Homo sapiens: one gene and its partners. The protein of the gene in region 1 interacts with the protein of each later gene in a pairwise test. Each region holds a gene or a part of one and is shown in the gene's direction. Other genes may lie near its edges.

Evidence for each region. The genes of interacting proteins can lie anywhere in the genome.
Region 2: the proteins of PITX1 (region 1) and PLSCR3 interact in binary tests that used the Homo sapiens proteins (3 or more experiments, as listed by UniProt).
Region 3: the proteins of PITX1 (region 1) and SERPINE1 interact in binary tests that used the Homo sapiens proteins (3 or more experiments, as listed by UniProt).

The regions. Positions count from the first base shown.
Region 1 is NC_000005.10:135,031,226-135,038,419, reverse strand, and holds the start of PITX1 (pituitary homeobox 1), read left to right. Parts: upstream 1-4,191; 5' UTR 4,192-4,470; coding exon of another isoform or gene 4,471-4,538; coding exon 4,539-4,707; intron 4,708-4,879; exon of another isoform or gene 4,880-5,146; intron 5,147-6,911; coding exon 6,912-7,144; intron 7,145-7,194. UniProt on the Homo sapiens protein: Sequence-specific transcription factor that binds gene promoters and activates their transcription. May play a role in the development of anterior structures, and in particular, the brain and facies and in specifying the identity or structure of hindlimb.
Region 2 is NC_000017.11:7,391,516-7,398,520, reverse strand, and holds the start of PLSCR3 (phospholipid scramblase 3), read left to right. Parts: upstream 1-3,995; 5' UTR 3,996-4,044; intron 4,045-4,249; exon of another isoform or gene 4,250-4,253; 5' UTR 4,254-4,410; coding exon 4,411-4,417; intron 4,418-4,684; coding exon 4,685-4,920; intron 4,921-5,011; coding exon 5,012-5,054; intron 5,055-5,156; coding exon 5,157-5,377; intron 5,378-5,542; coding exon of another isoform or gene 5,543-5,568; coding exon 5,569-5,730; intron 5,731-7,005. UniProt on the Homo sapiens protein: Catalyzes calcium-induced ATP-independent rapid bidirectional and non-specific movement of the phospholipids (lipid scrambling or lipid flip-flop) between the inner and outer membrane of the mitochondria.
Region 3 is NC_000007.14:101,130,095-101,137,113, forward strand, and holds part of SERPINE1 (plasminogen activator inhibitor 1 isoform 2 precursor), read left to right. Parts: intron 1-326; coding exon 327-560; intron 561-1,780; coding exon 1,781-1,975; intron 1,976-3,600; coding exon 3,601-3,799; intron 3,800-5,399; coding exon 5,400-5,500; intron 5,501-5,620; coding exon 5,621-5,707; coding exon of another isoform or gene 5,708-5,722; intron 5,723-6,885; coding exon of another isoform or gene 6,886-6,906; coding exon 6,907-6,990; intron 6,991-7,019. UniProt on the Homo sapiens protein: Serine protease inhibitor. Inhibits TMPRSS7. Is a primary inhibitor of tissue-type plasminogen activator (PLAT) and urokinase-type plasminogen activator (PLAU).

The DNA.
Region 1 (7,194 bases):
CCCGTGCCCTTTCCCGGGGCTGCTTTCGGCCTCCCGCATCTCTTCCAGGGAAAGGAAAAGAGGTGGGCTGGGGCTTGGAGACCAGGCTGTCTGGACTCTAGGATGCAGAGGCCTCCAGACAGGCTCAGGGTGCTCTTCTCCCATGAAAGCAGCCGCTGGGAGGAGGAGGCTATGGTGCATCCATAAGTTGCCCCTCTGCTCCCCAGTTGTGCGACCAGCTGCTACCTCCTTCCTAGTCTTCTTCCCCACAGCTCAGCCATTCTCAGGAACCAGACAGCGTCCATGGACTTAGGTGAGAGATGGGCCGGGTAGAGCCATGGGTCCTACCAGCCGCTGACTGAGCGGCCCACGGCACAGAGTCCTGAGTTCCATACTCCCATCTGTGCCTCACTGGCGGCAGTCCTGCTCAAATACATCCTGGCTCTCCCCGGGACAGGCTGGGGATCCCCATTTGGCAGGAAGCCTCAGACTGGGGTCCCAGGAAGCCTAAAGGAGCCAGTGAGGTCTTTCCAGCCCCTACCTGAGCACCCTCCTCCCCACTTACCCAGTAATTGCTGTATTCAAAGAAACGGGAGCTTTTATTGGGGAGGGGGTGTTAGATCAGGCAGAAAGAGGTAGGTGGTCCAAACCTGCACTCCCAAAACAGGGTTTTCAAGTTTGAACTTCTCCACGGACTAAGAGGCTTAGGGCTGGAATGTCCCAGAGAGTCATGGATAGCCCTGGTGGCAGGCCATGGCACATTCCTTCCTTTTTCCTAAAATACCTTGATTCTGGGAGCAAGGATTAGGGCACGGTGCCCCCGTGGGTGGGTAGAAGGATGCCCCCCCACTGAGAGCCTTCCAACCACCCTTCCCAAATTACATTACTAAACCATTCTTGGGCACAGGGTGTTTTTAGTGAGCCAGGCTTCAGGAAGGGTCCTCATGGTGACTACTTCAACCCCACAACAGCCCAAGCTCTTCTGCTCAGCCCAGCCAAGACCCTAAACTCCAAAATTCTTGAAAATCAGAGAATCATTGCTGGCTTTGTGTGGTCACGGAGGGGTGGGGAACAGGGCACATGGTTCCAGCTCCACTAAGCCCCCTTCCCTCCTCTCTTCGTGTCCCATCAGCAAGTGAGCTGGATGCTGAAGCAGCAGGCAGAGTCCGGTGTTGGACATGGGAACTGAGGCACAGTGCAGATCAAGCCTTAACCTTGAGGGAAACACAGGTCACATAGCACAGCTGGGGGAACACAAAGCCTCTGCTTACTCCTGAAAGAGTGCTGTTTTCTGTCCTGTATGTGTGACGTGTCTGTGAGCGTGCAAGAAGCCCCTATCTTGACTGGGACAATGGCCAGTGAGTGTAGCTGGGGAAGAATTGAGAGCATGTCCAGGTCCCTTCCCCAGCCAACGCCCAAGATCAGGCCACAGCCTCCTCACAATCAATTGCCTCCTCACTCCTTGATCACTCAGTGCTGCCCAGGCCCAGCAGAACAGACTCTGCCAGCAGGCCCCACTAGCCCCAGCTCCTCTTTGGGTCTCAGGTCCCCTGAGGATATGGGGCTTCACCTGAAATGGTCTGAGGGCTTTTCCTTCTACACAGCAGGCATCAAGATCACCAAATAAAGGGACTATTGTGCCTGCCTGGAGCCCTGCCAGAGGTTTGGGCCCAGAGGGGCACACAGCAGGTGCTCAATAACTGCATTAAATGCACTAACAGTGAGGAAACACGCCCCTCAGACTAAGCAGTGAGTGCTGCTCACAGAATAGTCCCCATTGGGGGATGGCCCAAAGAGTCACTTTGGTCCCTCTGGGAAGTGAGAAGGCAAGTGAGAAGGCTGTGAGTCTTAACCTCCTCTAGAGGCCCACAGACAGACCATTCATTTCTAAGTCTCTACCCAGAGACGCACTGTGCTTCCCACCTTGGCCTGACATGTGGCAGGGTTAGAACACACCTCCTATCCCCTGCCAGCCCGCGTTCATGCCAAGTAGCACATATATGCCTAAACTCAGCACTTCCATAGTGCAGTGAATACATGTGTGTGTACAGCATCTCCGCATGGATGTACAGGATGTGTGTGTGTGTGCGTGCCCCCATGCTGTCTGCATTCAGGCTGTTCTTTTTGGTAAGACAGCTAAAAAAAGAATGGTCTGTGAAGGGACACTCCCTAGCACGCTGCAACACCTGAATATCTCCTTGAAAGGAGGGATCTTCTACTGCAGGAGACTCGTGGTAAAGGTGGCCAAGAAACATGGCAACGGTGGGGCTGAGGGCAAATGCTGGGCAACTGTGCTTCCCCATGTTCCCCTCCCCGTAGCCAAGACTCATTTCATGGAGGGAGATCTCAGCTTGGAAGAAGGCAGGAGTCACTGAGCCTCCCCAATCCAAACCCCTGAGAAGTGTCCTCCCTCTGGCCTCAGACCCTGCATCCTGTGGTCACAGACCCACAGTGAGAAAGGACCAGGCCCTAAGGAGCTGTGCTGTCTCTCCACGGCCCAGAGCGGGGGATGGGGATGGGGATGGGGATGGGGATGGGGATGGGGATGGGGGTAGGGGTGGGGGTGCTTTGGACTAACGTGGAGGGAATGGAAGGCAGGCCTGGTTCCACCCTGCATGCCCGACCCTGGCCCCAGCAGCCCCCACAAGGAGCTCAGCTGACCCTGGGTGTCTCCCTGTGATGGGAAGGGGTAAGACGAGGACTCAAAGGCAGAACCTGCAGAGTGCCCCAGACGCTGATACCTGCACAGTCAGTGCCACCCACCCAGGAGTTGAGGAGGCACTGGGTTTTGGGGTGAGGACACTGGACACCTCCCTGCTTCTTTCCCAGGCAGACAATCCTGGCGCAGCTCCCTTGGGTTGCTGTGTCTGGTGGAGCTGATCACAGGTGAGGGGCAGAGGGCAGTCTGGGGTCCGCCTATGGCCAGAGGAGCAGGTCAGGGCGGCGCCTTGCCGCCCCAGCTGTGGCCTGTTTGCTCAAGACGCTGAGGTCTCGGGGCCAGCTAACAATTGTTGAGCAAAATCCTTCGACAAACTTCACCTACGTGCAAGGACTCGAGGAGGGAATCACTCTTAGGAGTGGGAGAGTAATGTCTTTGCCTGTGCCCAGTGAAGGCCCATTGGAGCTGCAGCTCAGCTACCACTGTGTGGGAGAGAAGCTGGAAGACTGAGGGCTTCCTGGGCTGCTGGCCCAGGGTTGGGAGACAGCAGTCACCTGGCTTACCAGGCCTATGCCTGAAGCCCTGGGAAGCCAGGACGCAGGCCCCAGGCTGGGACAAAGCTACCCTGAAGGAGGGCAAAGGCTGCCAAGGCCAACCCCATGCCTGCCAAGGCCAGGCCTGGCCCATTTGGCCAAGGCCTAAGGTGTAAAACAAGGGGAGAGGTACAAGAGGCTGTGGGGTCTGGCTGGGATCCTTGGGGTCTTCCTTCTGCATTCTCCAAACGCCTAGAGCCAGCAGAAACGTTTCGTCTGATTAGAAGCCATCATTTCTATCCCAATCCCGGAAAATTGACTGCGGTGCAGAGAGGGAGGCCTGAGAAGCAGCCGTAGGGGAGAAGGTCCAAGCTAATTAGGAGGCAGCATCCGGGGGCCCATTAGAGCGCAGGCTGCTGTCACTCAGCCGGGCTGAGTTCCCGGGAGAAGAGGCTGGAGAAGGAGGGGCAGGCGGCCCCTCGACGAGGACACCGCTGGGAGCTGCCGGAACGGGCCCCGGGCTCTGCCCCCGCCCCGGCGCTGGCTCGAAGGCGCCCGCTCGGTGCGATCCTGTTCGGCAAACATTCACTCATCCTGGGCTGTTCTCGCCAGGGCTGGGGACTTCGAGGCGGCCGAGACGGGAGTTGATTCTAGGCGAAACAAGTCATTTGAGGCCTGAGGTGTGCACGAGCCGCCCGGGACTCGCAGGCCAGATGCGTTTCTTTTGTGAGGCCGAGGGAGAACTCGGTGTGTCACCGGGGAAGGAGGGAGAGGCGCGGCGAGGCCGCGGGGGGCGGGGAGGCGGCGGGAAGGTGGCTGCGGAGGGGGAGGGCGCGGGCGAGGCAGGGAGGGAGGGAGGGCGGCAGTGAGGGCGCGGCGGCGCGGGCGGCTTGGGGCTGGATTCCGCCCGCGCTCCCTCGCTCGCTCGCTCCCTCCCCAGCCCCCTCCCACCCAGGCCCACCCCACCCAGCACCCCTGGCGCAGGGACTGCTGGAACCTGGCTGTGCGCGCTGTCGCTTTAAGACAGACTCTGCCGGCGCCGTCCGGAGCCTTAGAAACCGGCCCCGGATCGCGAGCCGGAGCCGGAGCCGGAGCCGGGGCCGGCCGGGCTGCTGAGGCCCGAGCGGCAGGAGCGCAGCGCGGAGCGCTGAGCCAGGCGCCCAGTCGCGAGAAGCTGCCGCCGCCTCTGCCCGCCCGGCGCCGCAGCCCCGGGCGGTCCATGGGGCGGGCACGGCGTCGCTGCAGGCGCCGGCAGCCCTGGAGGGCAGCCGCTTAGGCGCTGCGCTCTTGTCCCCGCAGGTCGCAGCCAGGGCGGCGGGGCGCGCCCAGCCCCGGCCCCTGGAGCGCCCGCCGCGGTCCCCACCTCCATGGACGCCTTCAAGGGGGGCATGAGCCTGGAGCGGCTGCCGGAGGGGCTCCGGCCGCCGCCGCCGCCACCCCATGACATGGGGCCCGCCTTCCACCTGGCCCGGCCCGCCGACCCCCGCGAGCCGCTCGAGAACTCCGCCAGCGAGTCGTCTGACACGGAGCTGCCAGGTAAGCGCCGTTCCCCGCGCGGCGCGCACAGAGCCTACCCGGGCGCGGAGCACGGGGAGCTGGGAGCAGGGCCTGACGCCCGCGCCGCGCAACCAAGCTCCCTCTCCGCCCCAGAAGCGTCAGGAGCTTTCTTTTTCCCGTTCTCGACCTGACGGTGAACGCGGAAACTTACGCACACGCGAAGGCACTTCCACGCGGTCCCCACGCGCCAAGAGACTGGCAGATGCACGAGCCTACAGCTGGAGGGTTGGACTGACAGCCCCTCTTGATCAGGAGTAAATAGAACGGGAAAGAATTTGATTTGCGCAACTGGGCGCTAAGGAGCGGCTCGGACGAAGGGAGAGGAGGAGACCGAGAAAGGAAGAGGGGTGACGGGCGAGAGAACGCACTCAGAGAGACAGAGAGGGAGGTTAACACCGTGACAGTAGGCGACAGAATGAAAGAGACCAAAGAGAAGGGGCGGGCGGGAAGGGTAAACGGGGGGAGAGGGGTCATCAAGTAGAAGGGAGACACAGAGGACGGTGAGGGCGAGCGGGCCAACAGGCGCGGCCGGACTCCCAGCAAGGCCAGCCGGAACGCCGATCAAGGGATCCGGCCCACGTGCGCGGCCGAAGCCCGGAGCAGCCCGGCTCTGGCCCCCGCCCCGGCTCCTGCGCGTCTCCCTCCGCGCTGCCTTTTTTTGTCCGAGCTGGAGCTTTTTTCCAGCAGCGAACTGGGCCCGCGGGTGGCCGGCGCGGGCAGTGGGGCAGCGAATCCGCTGCCCAGCGCAGCCGGCCGGGTTCCGGAGGGGCTCCGAGCTCCCCGGTGTGGGCGCCTCTTCTGCGTTCATTTCTTAATACACAGCTGAATGTTTCTCTCCACTTTCTTAGTATCTGTTTCTCTTTTGCATCCCTAAGTGATTTTTCTGAGAGGTTGTTTGCTTGGTTAAAACATAATCAACGCTGAACTCTACTTTTGTTTTCAAAAGTTTTAAGCGCGGTCTTTGGTTGGTTTTATTTTTAAAACCTAGAGAGATATATAATCGTATATTGATTTTTTTGAACCAAATCTATGAGGATGAATTAATTTTAACTGTATCTTTCGATTCTGAAAGAATTAACGTACGAAGTGTAGGTCTGGAATTTAAAATATCTACATGCAACATTATTCTTCCGGAGATTTTAAAAAGTCAATCCAAAATGGCGCGTTTCTCCGGAATTTTCTCAAAATCCATTTACAGTGGTGTTATTTGGGGAATTTAAATTATCTAACTATAATGTGTTTCTCTGGGATTTAAAAATTATCTCTACAAGGGCCTTATTGGGAAGGAGTTAAAAATCTATCTACAACGGTACATTATTTTTTTAAATCCCAGAGAAATAAATGCTTCTGTCAACCTGGAGTTTATACACTTACAGCTCTGTATTTAGTTAGGGGTGTGTTTGTACGGAGCTTTCTGGCTTCTTAATTTACATTTGCTCTGTGTTTCTTCCTGTCTGATTTTGAGAATTTGTGGCCCTTTCAGTGTCTTTAGGCATAGAGCTGTGAGCTTTTCTGGGCTTCTGTGTTTTGTTTTTAAACTCTTTTTCTTTATGTATTAATGTTTCTATGACTGCGTGTGTTTTGTGTAGCTTCAAAGAGAGACAGACTAAAGCCCGAGGTCACCTAGACAGAGTCTGTCTGTCTGGGCTGCAGTTGGTGGGGTTTTCTAGGCTTTGGGACTGGAGGCCTGGAAGCAAGGCCGAGAACCCGGCTGTGTTGTGCCTGCCCAGTGGGGCTCCCATACACCCCTGAGGAGAAGAAAGTGGAGGGACTTTAGGCTGGAGAGATCTGATCCTAGTTCAGAAAAGCAGAGACCCCCTCAGATTTAGACCCCCTAAGAGTTCGCAAAACAAACAAACAAAAAGCATACATTTGCTGGGAACATCAGCAGCAGGGTCAGAATCTGAGCCGAGCTAAGGGTGCAGGCCCTGCCCAGCCAGGAACGCAGGCCCGCGGCTCCAGCTCCGATTCTTGGGCTCTTCTCCGCGGCACACCAGACTAGAGGTGCCTACTGACGACCAGCACCCGGCGGGCGCTTTCCAGTGGGGACAGTTCCCAGGAACCCTAGAGGGAGGGAGGGAGGGAAGACCGCCAGCGCTGGTGGCGAGCGGTTCGGTGGAGCCGGGACGGGGTGCAACGGGGCGTAAGCCCAGGTGACCCGCTCCCCGTCCTGCCTACTGCAGAGAAGGAGCGCGGCGGGGAACCCAAGGGGCCCGAGGACAGTGGTGCGGGAGGCACGGGCTGCGGCGGCGCAGACGACCCAGCCAAGAAGAAGAAGCAGCGGCGGCAACGTACGCACTTCACAAGCCAGCAGTTGCAAGAGCTAGAGGCCACGTTCCAGAGGAACCGCTACCCCGACATGAGCATGAGGGAGGAGATCGCCGTGTGGACCAACCTCACCGAGCCGCGCGTGCGGGTGAGCAAGGGGTGCGCGCCTAAGGGCACCCGCGCAGAGGGCTCCCGGGC
Region 2 (7,005 bases), on another chromosome or scaffold:
TCTACACTTTGTGCAAGCTTAGTTTAGCTTCAATAGGATCACCTTGGTGAGGCCTTCCACATCTGAAGGGGCACACCCTCCACCCTCCAGCTGTTCCACCGCCTCTCTGTGCTTTTTCGTTTTGTTTGAGACAGGGTCTCGCTTTGTCACCCAGCTGTAATGCAGTGGTGCCATAAGGACTCGCTGCAGTCTCCATCTCCCAGGGTCAAGCAATTCTCTCACCTCGGCCTCCCGAGTAGCTGGGACTACAGGTGTAAGCTACCACGACTAGCTAATTATTACTTTTTTGTAGAGATGGGGTCTTGCCGGGTGCGGTGGCTCATGCCTGTAATCCCAACACTTTGGGAGGCCGAGGCGGGCAGATCACAAGTTCAGGAGTTCGAGACCAGCCTGTCCGGCATGGTGAAACCCAATCTCTACTAAAAATACAAAAATTATCAGGGTATGGTGGTGCGCACCTGTAGTCCCAGCTACTCGGGAGGCTGAGGCAGGAGAATTGCTTGAACCCAGGAGGTTCAAGAAAGAGATGAGATGGGGTCTCACCATGTCGGCTGCCTAGGCTAGTCTCGAACTGCTAGGCTCAAGCAATCCTCCTGCTTCAGCCCCCTACCCAGTTACTTGGGAGGCTACAGTGGGAGAATAGCTAGAGCTCAGGCGTTCAAGAGCAGCCTGGGCAACATAGTGAGATGCTGTCTCTAAAAAAATAAAAATATCCCAGCACTTTGGGAGGCCGAGGCAGGTGGATGACCTGAGGTCAGGAGTTCAAGAACAGCCTGGCCAAAGTGGTGAAACGCTGTCTCTACTAAAAATACAAAAATTATCTAGGTGTGGTGGCAGGCACCTGTAATCCCAGCTACTCAGGAGGCTGAGGCAGGAGAATCGCTTAAACCTGGGAGGCCATTGCACTCCAGCCTGGGCAACGAGAGCAAAACTCCATCTCAAAAATAATAATAATAATAATAAAATAATAATAATGTGGTAGTATGTGCCTGTAGTCCCAGCTTGAGGATCCCCAGGCATGAGGATAGCTTGAGCCTAAGAATTTTGTTTTGTTTTTGTTTGAGATGTAGTCTCGCTCTGTTGCCCAGGCTGGAATGCAGTGGTGCAATCTCAGCTTGCTGCAGCCTCTGCCTCCCGGGTTCAAGCGATTCTCATGCCTCAGCCTCCTGAGTAGCTGGGATTACAGGCATGTGCCAACCACGCCTGGGCAATTTTTTTGTATTTTTAGTGGAGACGGGGTTTCACTGTGTTGGCCGGGCTGGTCTCAAACTCCTGATCTTCAGTGCTCTGCCTGCCTGGGCAGAGTGGGATTAGAGATGTGAAGTACTGGAATTAGAGATGTGAGCCACTGTGCCCGGCCGAACCTAGGAGTTTGAGGCTGCAGTGATCTCTGATGGTGCCACTGCACTCCCTCCTGGGTGACGGAGCAAGACCTCAGTCTCATAAATAAATAAATAAATATGCTGGGTGTGATGGCCCACACCTGTAATCTCAGCACTTTCGGAGGCTGAGGCAGGTGTACTGTTGGAGCCCAGGAGTTGAAGACCAGCCTGGGCAACATGGCAAAACCCCATCTCTACAAAAAATACAAAAATTAGCTGGACATGGTGGCCCATGCCTGTAGTCCCAGGTACTCGGGAGGCTGAGGTGGGAGGATGCCTTGATCCTGGGAAACAGAAGTTGTAATGAGTGGAGATCATGCCACTGTATTCCAGCCTGGGCAACAGAGCAAGACCCTGTCTCAATAAACAAACAAACAAACAAACAAACAAACCCTTAGAGGGGACCTCCAGAGTGGCCCAAAGGGGCTGGGTGCAGTAGCTCATGCCTGTAATCCCAACACTTTGGGAGGCCAAGGTGTAAGGATCACTTGAGGCCAAGAGTTCCAGACCGGCCTGGCCAACATGCAGAAACCCTGTCTCTACTAAAAATACAAAAATTAGCCGGGTGTGGTGGCTGTAGTCCTGGCTGCTTGGGAGGCTGAGGCAGAAGAATTGCTTGAGCCTGGGAGGTGGAGGTTGCAGTGAGCCAAGATAGCGCCACTGCACTCCAGCCTGGGTGGCAGAGTGAGACTCTCAAAAAAACAGAAAAACCAGAGTGACCCAAAGGTCCAGTGGCAGAGCCAAGGCTGGGTCTGTAGGCTCCTTCCTCCCAGTCCAGTGCTCTCACTGCATTTCCATCCTTCACCTCAGGTGGCATCTAGGGCACAGGGGGAACCTCCACATGGAGAACCACTGCAGTACGTCTCACGTCTCTTCTCTGTCCAGACCCTCCAACATTTCCCATCTCAGGGTATAATTCAGTGGACTAAAAGGCCATGCGTGACCTGGCTTCTTGTGACCCCTCTGACCTTCCCCTCATTAACTCCATTCCAGTCTCACTGGTCTTCTGCCTCAGGACCTATGCCCTTGCTGTTCCCTCTGCCTGAAACACTTACCCAGTAATCTGCACAGCTCAGTCCCTCATCTCCTTTAGGTTCTGGGTCAACTATCATCTTCTTTCTTTCTTTCTTTCTTTTCTTTCTTTTTTTTTTTTGAGACGGAGTCTTGCTTTGTCGCCAGGCTGGAGTGCAGTGGCAAGATCTCAGCTCACTACAACCTCTGCCTCCCAGGTTCAAGCGATTCCCCTGCCTCAGCCTCCCGAGTAGCTGGGACTACAAGCGCCCGCCACCACACCTGGCTAATTTTTTTGTATTTTAGTAGAGACGGGGTTTCACCATATTGGCCAGGATGGTCTCCATCTCCTGACCTCATGATTCGCCTGCCTCGGCCTCCCAAAGTGCTGGGATTACAGGCGTGAGCCACCGTGCCCGGCCTAACTATCGCCTTATTGGTGATGCCTTCGCCTTATTGGTGATGTCTAAATAAATATTTATTTATTTATTTATTTATTTTGAGATGGAGTCTCGCTCTGTTGCCCAGGCTGGAGTGCAATGGCGTAATCTCGGCTCACTGCAACCTCTGCCTCCCGGGTTCAAGAGTTTCTCCTACCTCAGCCTCCTGCATAGCTGGGACTACAGGCGCCCGCCACCACACCCGGCTAATTTTTGTATTTTTAGTAGAGATGGGTTTTTGCCATGTTGGCCAGGCTGGTCTCAAACTCCTGACCTCAGGTGATCCGCCCACCTCGGCCTCCCAAAGTGCTGGAATTACAGGCGTGAGCCACCGCGCCCCGCCACGATCTTTCTAAAACACACATTTGACCTTCTTTGTTCTAAAAATGTCTCGGTGGACTCCTCGCTGCTCGTGGGGCCAAATCGCAGCTTCCACACAACCCGCCCTGTATGTGGACTGCACTCCGTTTCTAAACTCATCTCTTGCGCCACTCAGCCAGTGGCCCCCAAGGCAGGACTGGTCCTGGCTCAGGATCCAGTCGAAGACACTCATCTCGGGGGTCTTTTCTGACCGCGCTTCCTCCTCTGGCCCTCTAGGCGGCCTGAGCACGCTCACTGACACCGTTTGGCGGCCTGTCACCCGCGTGGCTGGGGCACCTGCAGAAACTGCTGTCGCTGCGAGGTGCCCGTGTGGGTCACCGCTGTGCCAGGGAGAGAAGACGGCGAGGTCGCCCCTGGGAGGCAGAAGGCGAGCCAGGAGCCAGTCCTGGAAGCCAATGAGTGAGTGTGAAGGGTGTTCCGCTGCGTCAGCGAGGCCCGACTGCCCTTGGGAGGAGGAGCCCAGGGGCCAGCGCGGCCCGGGCCGCCCTCGCCTCCCACCCAGGGCGCTGAGCACGCACGCCGCCGGCCTGGCGGCGTTCGCGGGGCCCGGGACCAGCCGCCGCCTTCTCCAGGCGCTCCTACTCTCTGGGCATCTGCAGTCCGAGCGGAAGGGGCGGGAACGTCGGCGACGCCGAGGAGCAAAGCCCACGATCGGCTTCCCGGGGCAGCGGACGGCTGCCTTCCTCCCGGCGCAAACGCACCGCCCAGGAGGGGGCGGGCTCGGCGGGTCGGGGGGCGGGGCCGGGGTCCGAGCTCGGGCCCGCCTCCGCCTCCGCCAGCTCCTGTGAGCTGCCGAGTGCTAGGCACCCGGGCTCTTCTGGGGGCTCCAGGTGAGCGGGGGCACAGAGGGGTCAGGGAGACCGCCCTTGGGGTGGGGCTGTCGGTCTGACCGCGGGTCCATCTGTCCTGCCGTCGGCCCACAGCCTCCTCCGCAGGATGGGAGAACAAAGGGAGGGGGCGGTTCTGGGGCCCCCGAGGGAATCCAGGGTCCCAGGTACCCGGTCCCGCCCACTGACACTTGGGTTTCTCCCCGAGTCAGAGGCGCCGCCCAAGAGACCCTGGGCCGGCGCCGGGCGCAGCTGCCTCTCCGTCTTTGTGTCTGTCTCTGTGTCTGTCTGGCTATCTCCGAGTTTGCCTCCGCTTCCAGAACTAAGCCACCCAGACACCATCATCTCGAAAACCCCAGCCCTTCTCCCATGGCAGGTAAGTGCGCGCAAGTCTGGGGGTCTCCGTTATCCCCCCCACGGACTTGGGAGCCGGGTTTGAACACATCCTCCCGGAATGTGCTCGGACTGGCTGGGTGGGGCCCCTCCCTTCCTTCCGGGGAACCTCCACCCTGCTCCCCTGCCCCATCTTTCTCTGCCTCTTGCCACCACGTTTCCCCCGAAGCCTCGCGGCCCATGGGCTGAGGAATAAGGGGATGAGGCCTTGAGTCCCTTTCTAATCTATCCTGCTCCCACCGCTTTACAGGCTACTTGCCCCCCAAAGGCTACGCCCCTTCGCCCCCACCTCCCTACCCTGTCACCCCTGGGTACCCGGAGCCGGCGCTACATCCTGGGCCCGGGCAGGCGCCAGTGCCCGCCCAGGTACCTGCCCCAGCTCCCGGCTTCGCCCTCTTCCCCTCGCCTGGCCCCGTGGCCTTGGGGTCTGCTGCCCCCTTCTTGCCACTGCCAGGGGTGCCTTCTGGCCTCGAATTCCTGGTGCAGGTGAGTGGGAAGGAGGGAGGGAGGATGACTGGGAGGGGACTTGGGCGTCCAGATGGGCCAGCTGATGTGCGCGCCGCCCCTCTCTTTCCAGATTGATCAGATTTTGATTCACCAGAAGGCTGAGCGAGTGGAAAGTAAGTAGAAGGAGTGGGAGGTTGGACCTCATGATGGTGGCCCGGATGGTGGGCTCCTGGGCGCGCGAGGCTCTACGAGTCTCCCCGTGTCACCTCGGGCAGCGTTCCTAGGCTGGGAGACCTGTAATCGGTATGAACTGCGCTCTGGGGCCGGGCAGCCCCTGGGTCAGGCGGCCGAGGAGAGCAACTGCTGCGCCCGTCTGTGCTGTGGCGCCCGCCGGCCGCTGCGTGTCCGCCTGGCCGACCCCGGGGACCGTGAGGTGCTGCGTTTGCTCCGCCCGCTGCACTGTGGCTGCAGCTGCTGCCCCTGTGGCCTCCAGGAGGTGGGCGGAGGGAGGGGGCCGGGAGGGCGGGCCTTGGTGGGGCGGGACAATGATGAGGTCCACCTGAGATGAGGCCTGGATCAGGTGGGAGTGGGCAGGTGGGGATGGGAGGTTTAGTGAGGGCCAAATAGACAGATGATAGAGCTGGGACCCCTGCCTCCGCAGTGACCCTGTCTGCTTCCCACTCCCAGATGGAAGTACAGGCTCCACCAGGCACCACCATTGGCCACGTGCTACAGACCTGGCATCCCTTCCTCCCCAAGTTCTCCATCCAGGATGCCGATCGCCAGACAGTCTTGCGAGTGGTGGGGCCCTGCTGGACCTGTGGCTGTGGCACAGACACCAACTTTGAGGTATCAGGAATACTAGAGGCTCTTGGGACCTTCGTAAACCAAGATGATGCTTCCATGAGGCAGGATAGTTAACATTAAGGTCAAGACCCTGAGCTCATCAATCCAAATCCACTGTGACTCCGACCGCATTTGTAGCATTCCTCCATTTGGAAATAGGATGGCCCTGTGCTCTTATAAAAGCATAACAACGAGGATTTCATCTTAAGGAGCAATGCTGATTATTACAAGTGGCCCTGAGATGGGCAGAAAAAAAATCTAAGGCCAGCCTGGATTTGGGGTGAAGGACGATTAAGTCTGTGTGGGCCGGGCCCATGTGGCTGCTGTGTATGAGTGTGTGAGCCCAGGCCCTGGAGCAAGCACGATTTTAACATGTTAACATCCTGTGGCCTGCCCTGCTAAAATAGAATCCAAATGCCCCTGCCATTCCGAAATCCAGTATATCCTTCTCACTGTGCATTCCTGTCACCAGTCTGGAAGCTAGAGATCCCAAGTGGCAAGAATTTCAGAGTGAGGTGAGGCCTGGGAAGCACCTTGGTTTCTAGAAGACAAAGGCACTCCACAGACCCTTGAGTTCTTTTTTTGTTTGTTTTTTGTTTGTTTGTTTTGAGACAGAGTCTTGCTCTTGTTGCCCAGGTGGGAGTGCTATGGCATGATCTCAGCTCACTGCAGTCTTTGCCTCCCGGGTTCAAGCAATTCTCCTGCCTAAACCTCCCGAGTAGCTAGGATTACAGGCATGCGCCGCCATGCCTGGCTAATTTTATATTTTTAGTAGAGACGAGGTTTCTCCATGTTGGTCAGGCTGGTCTCGAACTCCTGACCTCAGGTGATCCGCCCACCTCAGCCTCCCAAAGTGCTGGGATTACAGGCGTGAGCCACCGCACCTGACCGACCCTTGAGTTCTTTAAGGGATAATTGCTTGTGCAGATAAGGGAGAAACAACAGGTATAATCCAGTAGACTTTCCAACGCTTCTAATGAGGTACCCTACCTAAGGTTACTTTGCAAAAATGAGTCACCTTGGTAGCCAGAGGGAGATTCCATGATGAGAACCAATTGGGAATAAGATATAATAACTGCGTGATCTCCAGATGGGAATGTATAGGCTGTGGGGTTCTCATAGGGCCAGTGTCCCTTTTGCATAATTATAAATGGTCCATACTTGGGGCTGTACCCTTAGGACCATGGCAGGAAGTGCCCCAGAGCTGTAGGACAGTGCAGGAAGGGGATGGGAATGGCACAAAAGGAAATCACTGCAGTTCTAATCACTGGAGAACGA
Region 3 (7,019 bases), on another chromosome or scaffold:
TCCAGCCTGGGAGACAAGAGCAAAACTCCAACTCAAAAAAAAAAAAAAAAAAAAAACAGGAAGAAAATATTTAGGGTTCATAATTTAAGAACAGAGAAAAATATTCTAGCCCAAAGAAAGGGTTGGGATCTGAGACTTTTGAAGAAAGGAAGGAGATACAGAAAAGAGATTTCATCCTGGAATGAAATCTCCCTCCAGAGAGCCCTGGGAAAGCACGGTAGCCCCCATCCATCAGAGTGGAGCCCCTTGTGGGGGAAGTGGGCTCGGCTGGGAACCCTCAATTCAGCATAAGCCTCACATGTCCTCTCCTCTCTGTCCCGGTGCAGACAAGGGCATGGCCCCCGCCCTCCGGCATCTGTACAAGGAGCTCATGGGGCCATGGAACAAGGATGAGATCAGCACCACAGACGCGATCTTCGTCCAGCGGGATCTGAAGCTGGTCCAGGGCTTCATGCCCCACTTCTTCAGGCTGTTCCGGAGCACGGTCAAGCAAGTGGACTTTTCAGAGGTGGAGAGAGCCAGATTCATCATCAATGACTGGGTGAAGACACACACAAAAGGTGAGCAGGCAGGGAAAGGAAACCCATTTCCTGGGCCTCAAGAGAAAGGGAATTTGGAAATAAATCCACATATCCCAGTTGGGTGCAGTAGTTCACACCTGTAATCCCAGCCCAACACTTTGGGAGGTCTAGGCGAGAGGAAGGCTTGAGGCCTGGAGTTTGAGACCAGCCTGGCCAACATAACAAGACCTCATCTCTTCAAAAAATTTAAAAACCAGCCGGGCATGGTGGTGCACACCTGTAGTCCCAGCTACTTGGGAGGCTGAGGTGGGAGGATCACTTGAGTCCAGCAGTTCAAGGCTGCAGTGAGCTATGTTTGCACCACCACACTCCAGCCTGGGTCACAGAACAAGACCTCATCTCTAAAAAACAAACAAAAACCAAATCCACATATCCTAAAAAATGCTCCTTTTCAGCATTCTCTTCTCTATGGACAAAGGGCTGGATGCTTTAAGAACCAAATCTTAGGCTGGGCACGGTGGCTCACGCCTCTAATCCTAGCACTTTGAGAGGCCAAGGCGGGCAGATTGCCTGAGCACAGGAGTTCGAGACCAGCCTGGCCAACATGGTGAAACCCTGTCTCTGTCAAAAATACAAAAAATTAGCCAGGTGTGTTGGCGCATGCCTATAATCCCAGCTGCTCGGGAGGATGAGGTTCAAAGAATCACTTGAACCCGGGAGGCAGAGGCTGCAGTGAGCTGAGATCATGCCACTGCACTCCAGCCTGGGTGACAGAGCAAGACTTTGTCTCCAAAAAAAGGAACTAGACGGGTTCATTTAAACCCCTGACTGCAGCCCTTTGACATACATCCAATTGAGGACTGGGGACTCCGGGAAACATCTAAAAGGCTTAAAAACTTTGTCTAACTTCAGCCGGGCATGGTGGCTCACACCTGTAATCCCAGCACTTTGGGAGGCTAAGGCAGGTGGATCAAAAGGTCAGGAGTTTGAGACGAGCCTGACCAACATGGTGAAACCCCGTCTCTACTAAAAATACAAAAATTAGCCAGGCATGGTGGCAGGCGCCTGTAATCCCAGCTATTCGGGAGGCTGAGGCAGGAGAATTGCTTGAACCCCGGAGACAGAGGTTGCAGCGAGCCGAGATCGCGCCACTGCACTCCAGCCTGGCAATAGAGTGAGACTCCATCTCAAAACAACAACAACAACAACAACAAAATCGTCTAACTTCCTGATCTTCCTGATCATTGATTTTCCCATAGGTATGATCAGCAACTTGCTTGGGAAAGGAGCCGTGGACCAGCTGACACGGCTGGTGCTGGTGAATGCCCTCTACTTCAACGGCCAGTGGAAGACTCCCTTCCCCGACTCCAGCACCCACCGCCGCCTCTTCCACAAATCAGACGGCAGCACTGTCTCTGTGCCCATGATGGCTCAGACCAACAAGTTCAACTATAGTAAGTCCAAGAGCCCCTTCCCCACAGCCCACAGCAACTGCATCTCATTCCTGGGGTCTCCCAAGGAATACCCAAAATGTCACCCTCTGAGGGAGGAAGACCACAGGGAATGCTCCCCTTTAAGGGAGGAGAGACCCTAGAATATACTCCAGCTTTGACAAAGATTTCCCAAGCAGGAGACATCAGGATAATGGGAACAGAAGACAGGAGGTTTATCCCATGAAGGATGAAGAAGCTGAAATCCAGAGATTCCCTCAGGGCCACATTTGTCCACCTGACTCCAGGGTCTCATCTTCGTGTGTTGCTAGTGTGATTACCTGGGGATGAGAAATCCTGCTGGGGGAGTTGAGGTTAAGAGGATGAGGACTCCAGGTGCTGTGGCTCACGCCTGTAATCCCAGCACTTTGGGAGGCCAAGGCAGGTGGATCAGGAGTTTGAGGTCAGGAGTTTGAGACCAGCCTGGCCAACATGGTGAAACCCTGTCTCTACTAAAAATGCAAAAATTAGCCAGGTGTGGTGGCAGGCGCCTGTAATCCCAGCTACTCGGGAGGCTGAGGCAGGAGAATCACTTGAGCCCGGGAGGTGGAGGTTGCAGTGAGCCGAACGAAATTGAGCCACTTCACCCCAGCCTGGGCAAAAGAGTGAAATTCCATTCAAAAAAAAAAAAAAAAAAAAAAGGATGAGGACTGGGATGAACTGGTGGCTGGGTGTGGGGAAAATGGAAGTGAAGGAAGGCCAAAAGAGACAGAGAAGGCCTGGCGCGGCGACTCACGCCTATAATCCCAGCACTTTGGGAGGCTGAGAAGGGGGATTGCTTGAGGCCAGAAGTTGAATACCAGTCTGGGCAGCATAGCAAGACCCTGCCTCTACAAAAAAAAAATTTTTTTTAATTAGCCAGGCTTGGTGACATGCATCTGTAGTCTACTCAAGAAGCTGAGGTGAGGCCAGGCACGGTGGCTCACGCCTGTATTCCCAGCACTTTGGGAGGTCAAGGCGGGTGGATGACCTGAGGTCAGGAGTTCAAGACCAGCCTGGCCAACATGGTGAAACCCCATCTGTATAAAAATACAAAAATTAGCTGGGCATGATAGCAGGTGCCTGTAATTCCAGCTACTCAGGAGGCTGAGGTGGGAGAATCTATTGAACCCGGGAGGGGGAGGTTGCAGTGAGCCGAGATCATGCCATTGCACTCCAGCCTGGGCGACAGAGTGAGACTCCTTCTCAAAACAAACAAACAAACAAACAAACAAAATACAGAAGCTGAGGCGGGAGGAACATTTGAACCGGATTCGGAGGCTGCAGTGAGCTATGATTGCACCACTGCGCTCCAGTCTGTGTGACAGTGAGACCCTGTCTCTTACACACACACACACACACACACACATGCACACACACAGAGAGAGAGAAATTAGAAGATACTGAATTGGCAGAAGAGAAGGGAAATAGAAATTAAAATACTGAATAGGGGAGCAGTGAACAGGGGATACCCAAAAGCCAAGAGCGAGAGAGAGCCTGGCTTCCAGAAATAGTGGAGAAGCCAGGAGAACTAGGTGAAAACCCAGTGCTGGGTTGCCATCAGCGAGAGCTGGAGCCATTTCCAACGAACCATCTTGTCGTCTTCACAGCTGAGTTCACCACGCCCGATGGCCATTACTACGACATCCTGGAACTGCCCTACCACGGGGACACCCTCAGCATGTTCATTGCTGCCCCTTATGAAAAAGAGGTGCCTCTCTCTGCCCTCACCAACATTCTGAGTGCCCAGCTCATCAGCCACTGGAAAGGCAACATGACCAGGCTGCCCCGCCTCCTGGTTCTGCCCAAGTAAGCCACCCCGCTATCTCCCCGACCTACCAACCCCTCTCTCCTGGCTCCCTAAAGTCACCGCCCCCAGGTTGAATTTCCCAGATCTGTGATGCTTGCAGGACATGCATGTGTGGGAGGCTGATGGGAAACTGTGGCCTGGGTTTGATTATGAGTCTTGCAATCATCCCTCCCCCTGTTTCTGCTGGAGGGCAGGGGACAGCTCTTCCTGACCACACCCCCACATTGACTATCCCCAGAATACCCAGCAAAAGCCCCCAAAAGGAGAGTCAGAGAAATGAGGGAGGTGGGGGCCCAATCAGTCCACATCTACTTAGGGTCGCCCCATCAGCACTTCCATCCCCAACCCTTTCAAGTCAACATCCAAACAAAAGAAATCACTTCCAAGGACGGAGCAGCTCAAAGCGCAGCTTCTAGCTGGGGTTCCAAGAAAGCAGATTTTTCGAAATCCTTCTGCAGAAGGAAGCAAAGAGATTTTTTGAAATCTTTCTGCAGAAGGAGAAGGCTGGAGCTGGGGAACTCCAGAATTATAGGGAAGCCTCCCACCACGCTCATCCCAAATTTCCGGATGCTATAATGCCAGGCTTGGGGAAAGAGGAGAATTTAGTTGGTTAGCTGGTGCGTGCTCTCACTTGCATCCTCTCTCTTCCTCTTTTTTTTTTTTCTCCTCTCTCTCTGGCTCATAAAAATGGAGGTAATTAGTTGTGCCCTGGTGAGAAGCAGAGAGTGCACAAAGGCCCCCTGCTTGAGTCCTCTTCAGGGTTAGCTCTCAGAAACACAATCTGCAGAACAGATTTTTGTTCCAACATCCTTGCAGGAGAATTTGCCCTTAGCTTCCCCCACCCCAGCCAGGCTGAATAAAATTATGCTGAAACTACTGTCTTATTTGAGGAAAGTAATTAGTCATAGGTGGGAGGGGGTGGGGAGATTGCAGAAGAATGTTCATGAATATTAGGATTTTCAGCTCTAAGGGGGGACTTTGTAAACAGCTTTAGAAGAAGAACCAGGCCGGCTGGGTGTGGTGGCTCATGCCTGTAATCTCAGCATTTGGGGAGGCCAAGGCGGGCGGATCACTTGAGGTCAGGAGTTTGAGACCAGCCTGGCCAACATGGTGAAACCCTGTCTCTATTAAAAATACAAAAATTAGCCAGCCGTGGTAGCGAGCGCCTATGATCCCAGCTACTCCGGAGGCTGAGGCCAGAGAATCACATGAACCTGGGAGGTGGAGGCTGCAGTGAGCCGAGATCACGCCACTGCACTCCAGCCTGGGGGACAGAGCAAGAATCTGTTTCAAAAAAAAAAAAAGAAAAATAGGAAGGAAGGAAGGAAAGGAAAGGAAAGAAGAGAGAGAGAAAGAAAGAGAGAGAGAGAAAGAAAGAAAGAAAGAAAGAAAGAAAGAAAGAAAGAAAGAAAGAAAGAAAGAAAGAAAGAAAAAGAAAGGAAAGAAAGAACGAACGAACCAGGCCTCCCTCTCCAACCTTCACCTCCGTCCCTATTCTGGCCACTTGATTCGGGGGACACCTGGTAGGGGATGGGGAAAGGTGGGAGCTGCCAGCCAGAGGGGACCCCGGCTTGAGCAGCCTCTTGCTGCTATCTGCAGGTTCTCCCTGGAGACTGAAGTCGACCTCAGGAAGCCCCTAGAGAACCTGGGAATGACCGACATGTTCAGACAGTTTCAGGCTGACTTCACGAGTCTTTCAGGTAAGAAGACTTTCCTTTGCATTTTCTCACCCCAGTGGACTGCGGGGGCCCCTAAGAGGAAAAAGGAACCTCTCCTTGAGAGCGGCAGCTGATCTAATCCTGTATCCACATCTGTTTCAGACCAAGAGCCTCTCCACGTCGCGCAGGCGCTGCAGAAAGTGAAGATCGAGGTGAACGAGAGTGGCACGGTGGCCTCCTCATCCACAGGTGAGTCTGGCTCAGGTGAGGCTCCACGGGTGTCGCCTCCATCGCCCTTCAGGATAACTGGTCCCCAGACCCGGAAAGGACCCCGCAGCCCTCTCGGCACAGAGCAGCTCTGTCTGTGCTCAGCCATCACCCACTCCCCACCTGTTTCTCAGCCTGGAAAACGGGCTTGGGACCATGGAACCCTGTTTCCTCGCCTGATGGCTCCTAAGTTCCCTGACTGTGAAAAGGCCTCCTAAAGAAAAACCCAAGTTGTTCCCACAGTGGGAAGTAAACTTAAGAAACATGCTTATCAGGCTGGGCATGGTGGCTCCCACCTGTAATCCCAGCGCTTTGGGGGACCAAGGCAGGTGGATCACTTGAGGTCAGGAATTCGAGACCAGCCTGGGCAACATGGCAAAACCCTATCTCTACTAAAAATACAAAAATTAGGCAGGCGTGGTGGCATGTGCCTGTAGTCCCAGCTACTTGGGAGGCTGAGGCAGGAGAATCACTTGAATCCAGGAGGCAGAGGTTGCAGTGAGCCGAGATCACGCTGCTGCACTCCAGCCTGGGCAATAGAGCATGACTCTGAAGAAAAGAAAGAAAGAAAGAGAGAGAGAGAGAAAAGAAAGAAAGAAAGAAAGAAAGAAAGAAAGAAAGAAAGAAAGAAAGAAAGAAAGAAAGAGAAAGAAAGAGAAGAAAAGAAAAGAAAGAGCTTATCAATAAGCCCTTAAAGGATTTAGATAAATGTGTGTAAGGGAAGAGCTGATCCATTGCTACCAAGCTCCTGGAGGAAACCAGGTCTCAGAGGATGTCCCTAAACTTTTAAGGTTCATATTCAGGAAAACAAACAACTTCCAGCTGGGCTTAGTGGCTCACACCTGTAATCCCAGCACTTTGGGAGGCCGAGGCAGGAGGATCGCTTGAGCCCAGGAATTTGAGACCAGCCTGGGCAATATAATGAGACTGTGTCTCTACAAAAATTAGAAAAAAATTAGCCAGGCATGGTGGCATGCACCTGTAGCCCCAGTTACTTGGGAGACTGAGGTGGGAGGATCACTTGAGCCCATGAGTTCAAGGCTGCAGTGAGCCATGAAGGTGCCACTGCACTCCCACCTGGGCGACAGAGGGAGACCCTGTCTCTAAGAAAAACGGCGGGGGTGGGGGTGGTGCCAGTGCCAGCATCCCTCTGTTCTAAGACATTGTCCCTTCTCTTGCAGCTGTCATAGTCTCAGCCCGCATGGCCCCCGAGGAGATCATCATGGACAGACCCTTCCTCTTTGTGGTCCGGCACAACCCCACAGGTGAGCCTGGAACCCATCACGTTCCACAT